2 separate regions of the Homo sapiens genome follow, and region 1 is linked to region 2. Evidence: fine-mapped expression QTL. Tissue or cell type: whole blood. Region 2 holds a variant in brackets; the other region holds the start of a gene. All regions are shown on one strand. Distances are between the middles of the regions. Region 1 holds the start of CHAC2 (ChaC glutathione specific gamma-glutamylcyclotransferase 2). Region 2 overlaps ASB3 (ankyrin repeat and SOCS box containing 3).

The links.
Region 1: it holds the start of CHAC2, and the variant in region 2 is fine-mapped to the expression of CHAC2 in whole blood (INTERVAL, PIP 0.97).

The regions. Positions count from the first base shown.
Region 1 is chr2:53,766,242-53,769,162 of GRCh38, reverse strand. It overlaps CHAC2 (ChaC glutathione specific gamma-glutamylcyclotransferase 2), which reads right to left and starts at 1,359. Exons shown (of 3, transcript NM_001008708.4): 1 at 1,142-1,359. The coding sequence starts at 1,276. All of the region lies in intron 1 of ASB3 (ankyrin repeat and SOCS box containing 3), which reads left to right. The region is part of intron 1 of GPR75-ASB3 (GPR75-ASB3 readthrough); the gene reads left to right. RefSeq lists enhancers at 828-1,017, 1,038-1,387.
Region 2 is chr2:53,745,323-53,748,243 of GRCh38, reverse strand. All of the region lies in intron 3 of ASB3 (ankyrin repeat and SOCS box containing 3), which reads left to right. The region is part of intron 3 of GPR75-ASB3 (GPR75-ASB3 readthrough); the gene reads left to right. Among named protein-coding and RNA genes, the nearest start is that of CHAC2, 21 kb to the left of the region's middle. The variant T/C (reference allele first, on the strand shown) is at 1,486.

The sequences.
Region 1 (2,921 bases), 21 kb before region 2:
ACATTCTTGGAGATACTTTGGCCATGACATTTCTGTTGATCTGTAAATGTGCATTTATCCTAAGCCATTGCCCCTTTTCAGGTCACTGTGTCCAACATCCCAATAGGCCAGTATAGTCTACTTAAAAGCCAAGTTCTTAACTGACCAACTCTAGTTGAGATAGAATGGTTTCTAATTCAGGTTCTTTTCGTGATTTTAATCCCATGTCTCTCTTATGAGCAGGTGCAAACTACTTTAGCGCCTTGATCTTTTCCACTTTCCATTGACCAATTTCCAAATTATTAGTTACCTCAATCTTAGTTTTCTTTATGGATTAGTTGTTTTGTAGCCAGTACAAAGCTGATTTGCATAAGCAGTGAGCTGCTGCTAATTCTCTATACATATATTGAGATTAATGTCTTTGTAGGACTGACTGAAAAGTGAATCAATGAACTTACATTTCATATTATAATTATGAGAACCATCAAGAAAGTAACATTAAAATAATGCTGGATATAGTAATGAGTTTGGTACTATGTTATTCATATAACCAGAACTTCATTTAACTTCACTAGTACTGAAAACCAAAGTGAGTTCCTTAATAACCAGCGAAAATTTTGGAAACTCATTCTGCAATCCTGTGTGTCAGAAAATAAAACTTTTGAAAGATGTAAAGAAATCCTAGAAGTAACATGCACGTTTAATCGCAAGCTCATGAAAGTCGGCTAGAATGCAGAAATGCCAACAAATTTAATTGCTAAAAAGCTGAATTTGCAACTTGATTTACTATTTCAACTCTGTGGTGACATGAGCATTCATCTTCCCGCCAATGGGACTTTTTTTCTTTTGGCAGAGGTTGCAGAGAGATGGAGTCCCCATCTCCGCACTCAGCCTGGTGCGAGCTCGTGCGCCTGTGCCCGCGCTTCTCGCCGTCTCTAGAGACTAACCACCGGCATCTTAAGCAGCTTCGGAAGGAGTGCCCGGGCTGGGTTAGAGATGGCGGGCAGGTGGCAGGGAAAATCTACAGAAATGTTACCCCAAGCCATGTGCTTTGGCCCCATGAAGCGCTAAGGTGTGGTTCTCTAGGGTGTGGGTGCTGTGTGTGGAGTTGGGGAGCAGGGGTCAGGGGGCAGTAAGTGTGGGGAGCTGACCGGCGCCTCACCTTGCCGGGGACCCCGCGGTGGTCCGTGCTGCCCTGCCAGAAGCGCCTGCTGTAGTTGGTGATGTATCCGACCAGCTTGTCCTGATAGGGGAAATCCACCTTCCAGATCAGGGACCCGTAACCAAAAACCCACATCTTCTCGCGGCTCCTCTGCCCCAGTGGCCGTGAACCCTAGCTGTCGCCGCGCCGCCGGGGACTGAAGCCTCCGGTAAGCGAGTAACCGGCCGCGCGGGGCGCAGGCGCGATGGCCACTTGGGGCGCAAAGCGCACTGGGAGTTTAGATCCAGAAAGATTTTCCGAGCGGATCTCAGTCAGCTTTATTTTATTTCCTTGATTAGGGTGTCAAGAGGCATTGACCTTCGGTGTAGTAAGCAATGGATTCTTTTGCAGCATCCGTAAATCACCCTAACCTACCTTTAGTGCCCGTGTGCAGAAAACTACAATACCCACAATGCTTTTTGGAGCTATTTGGCTCTGAAATTGGAACTGGGCTTATTTCTAACGGGGCCGAGGAAGGAGAAAAGAGCAGGAGTCGTCACTCGTGTCCAGATACGGAGGCGGTGTACCAGCACCGCAGGTAGCAAAGCACCTAGAAACACGTTTTGTTCTGCTTTGGAAATTAGATTTTTGCCTATATAACAGCAGCCAGAGGAATGTAATTCATATTTGATTTTATGTCCTGAAAAAAAAGTCTTTTGCCTTTCAAATAAAAGCAGAAAGTTTACAATAGAAGTTTACGCTTGTGAAAGAGTAGCTGTCATTTCAATGGGAATTGTTTATATATTTAAATTTTACACAAATTTATTCATCTTTAGTATTATCATTGGCTTGTTCACAAAAGAGCAGGCAAATGTTCTTAACTTGGGGCCCCTGTAAAGGCTTTGGAAACGAGCTGGGGAACCTGAATTTGTATACAAAATTTGGGGTGTACACTTTTCTAGGGGGAAACTACAGCTTTCATGAGTTTCTCCAAGGGGTCAAGGATCCTAAAATTTTTTGAAGATCTGCTCATTAGAGCTCTTGCTGCAAAATATTGTTTAGGAAATTCGCTTGGACTATCATGGCTGTGTCTCTGTGTGTGAAAACAGAAACCTTACCAAGTGATTGTTCTTTCTTGAAGATTTTTATACCATGATCTTGAATGCTAAAACACTCAGATTCAAGGGGTATTATTTGTTTTCTTATAAAGAAATCAGCAGGAAGCTGCTACCAGACAAACAAACAAAAAAAAAAGCAAGTCTTTTCCTATTTTCTCTAAGTTGTGGTTTCAAATTGCCTGATATGGTTGCTAACCCTTCTTTTTTGAAAAATTTTGAATACACAGAAAACTCAGATAAAAAGAGTGTAATGACCAATACCTTTCATCTAGATCCAGTAATTACCATTTTGCACAGTTGCTGTACTTCCTTTTTACTTTATTTATACTTTTAAATGGAGAACATTTGAAGTTGCTTGTGTTATGACATTTTACTGCCACATACTCTACATGTGTCTCATAAGAATAAGGACATTCATCCTAGAACAAGTTCCCTAAAAAAAAAGAATAAGGGCATTCTCCTAATAACTGTGATGCCATTATCACATCTGAGAAAATTAACAATAGTTATGTAATCAAATAAGTATTCCATATCCAAACTGCTTCATAGAGTCACTAACAAGAAATTGTGTCTTCGAGAGAGTCACATGAGAGCTATACTGGACTCTGACTGGAGGGGAACTTGAAGTGAGCATTGGAGGGAGGTGATGATGTGGGCAAGAACTCTGTTAAGAACTTTCTGGG
Region 2 (2,921 bases):
ATTAGTCACCCTTGAATGACAGAAGACTTCATGTGCAGAGTGCTGTATTAACAGTAACAATAACATTTATTAAGCAGAGTGTATACTAAGCCTTGTGTGGGTGTTTTACATGAAGCAGATAATTGGATCTTCACTGTGATTCTGAGACATGTACTATTATTATTCCCACTTTTACAGGTGAGGAAACTTTAAAAAGACTGGATTTAGGAAGAGAAGAGCTATCTTTGAATCTTGATCTTGCTGTTGTCTGTGTTTTGGGTAGAAAACTGATTCAGTGAACTATTAAAAACATGTTTATTGACAAAAGGTTTCCTAATCACATACATTTGCGAAACACTATGTGCTATATCCCCCAGTGTAGAAAAACATGAAGACATTACATATGTGACTTATTGTGCCCACCCTGTCTGAAGTATCCACTGATCTCTTTATGCATTCTCTTTTAGTGTCTTCATCACTGACTCCAGTTAATTATTACTCCCTTGTTTATTTACTGCCCCCTTAACTAGAAAGAGTGTTCCATTAAGGCAGGGATTTTATTCATCTTGTTCACTGTTGTAACTCCCAAACTCAGTTTAGTGCCTGGTATATGGTAGGTATTCAGTAAATTATTTGTTAAATAAAAGAATGAAGGATTCTGAGAAGACCTCTCTTAAACAACATTTGTTTATCGCAGAGCTTTGAAACGTATTTGACTGTACTGTTCTTTCAGTCTCGTTGTCCAGCCTGGAGTGCAATGGCACAATCTCGGCTCACTGCAACCTCTGCCTCCCGGGTTCAAGTGTTTCTCCTGCCTCAGCCTCCCGAGTAGCTGGGATTACAAGCCCCCGCCACCACGCCTGGCTAATTTTTATATTTTTAGTAGAGATGGGGTTTCACCATGTTGGCCAGGCTAATCTGGAACTCCTGACCTCAGGCGATCTGCCTGCCTCAGCCTCTCTAAGTGCTGGGATTACAGGCATGAGCCACTGTGCCCAGCTGTATTCTTTTTCTTTATGGAACATTTAGGAATACCTCCAGAAACATTGATATTCCATGGGACTATTTGAGAAATGCTATTCTGGCCACATAGTTTACAGTTTCAAATTATTATTATTATTATTAGAGTCCCATTTATGAAATTCAGTATTGTGCCTACTTTTATTAGTATTTGGAGAAAATTAGAGATGCATAGTTTTTAGGGGTTTATATTTCAACATGTAGTTAACTTGTACTTTTTTATGTTAATGAAGCAAGGGATGGGAGATAATTCAAACCAGTAAATAACTTTAAATCACTTATTTTTAGTAGTAGGATTTATTTTGTTTCTGTGGCAGTGAATTTACCATTTTGTAAATGGTAAATTTGTATTGACTAAGAAATAAATCTTTTGTATTGACTAATACAAAATACCGTGCCTGGCCAATATAGTATTTAAAAAAAGGAAAGTAGAGCCTTAGTGTTTGTAAAAACATAATGTGGAAGGGCCAGGTGTGGTAGCTCACA[T/C]TTGTAATCTCAGCACTTTGGGAGGCCGAGGCGGGCGGATCACCTGAGGTCAGGGGTTCGAGACCAGCCTGGCTAACATGGTGAAACCTCGTTTCTACTAAAAATACAAAAAATTAGCTGGGTGTGGTGGCACATGCCTGTAATCTGAGCTACTTGGGAGGCTGAGGCTGGAGAATCACTTGAATCCGGGAGGGCGGACATTGCAGTAAGCCAAGATTGCGCCATTGCACTCCAGCTTGGACAACAATAACTCTGTCTCAAAAAAAAAAAAAAGAAAAAACCCCCCAAAAAACAGTGTGTGGAAGAATGGGCATGTATACATCAGTGTTGTGTATGGAAAAAATAGGAATGGACATATAACTCTTTAGTTAGATAATATGGGTGTCAGTGTCTTCTCTGCATCATGAATAATAGGACAAACTTTAGCACTCTGCCTTGCTCACCTTTACCTTTTTTTATTTTTTGATGTAGGGTCTTGCTCTTTTGCCGAGGCTGGAGTGCAGTGGCAAAATCATAGCTCACTACAGCCTCAAACTATTGGGCTCAAGTTATCCTCCTGCCTCAGCCTCTTGAGTAGCTGGGACCACAAGCACCGCCACCACACCCAGCTAATTTTTTTTTAATGTTTAATTTTTGTAGAGTTGGGGTCTTGCTATGTTGCCCAGGCTTGTCTTCAAGCGATCCTCCTCCCTTAGTTTCCCAAAGTGCTAGGATTACAGGCATGAGCCACTGCACTTGGACAATCTTTTTATCTTTTAAATAACCATATAGTGATTCCTGCTTCAGTCTATAATGGAAGAGTTTTAAAATTAAAACAAAATCCAAAATAATTCAAGGTTTGTATCAAACTACAAATAATTTCTAGATGAGGAAGAGTAGCTGGACTAGTTGGACTTAAAGTGAGAAAGGAAGGTTAACCTGTCTAGAATAGCTTCCTTTCCCATCTGTAGAGTTAGCTTCCAAAACTGAAAATTTGGAATATGTTGTTTGAGGTATTTTGTTTCTCTCCCTCAAGGGAAGCTATACTCTATTACATGTTATAGGACCTGTCCTGATGGCCCAGTTAGCACTAGCCTATTGCTAGAGGCTATAGAATATAAACCCAGAGGATCTAGGGGTAGAAAGTGAATATGGAACTATGGAAATCTCCCAGGTGACCGGAAAAGTTGTTGACATGAGAGGTGTGTTGGATCTGATTATGACTGAACATAAAGCTAAATGGAGGGACTCTGGAAAGTCGACTGCTCCACTGTTTGTAATGGGACTATCTTCTTTACACAGAGCTCACCAACATTTTAATAAAGATGAGCTTTAAAAGGGAACTCTTCAACTTAATGGCAGTAGGAATCAAAATGAGAAAACCTCACGAGAAAGGGGAAATTCAGGGAACATCTCATCTTTCTACATGAATATTGTCCTTCCAGAACATCTTTTTG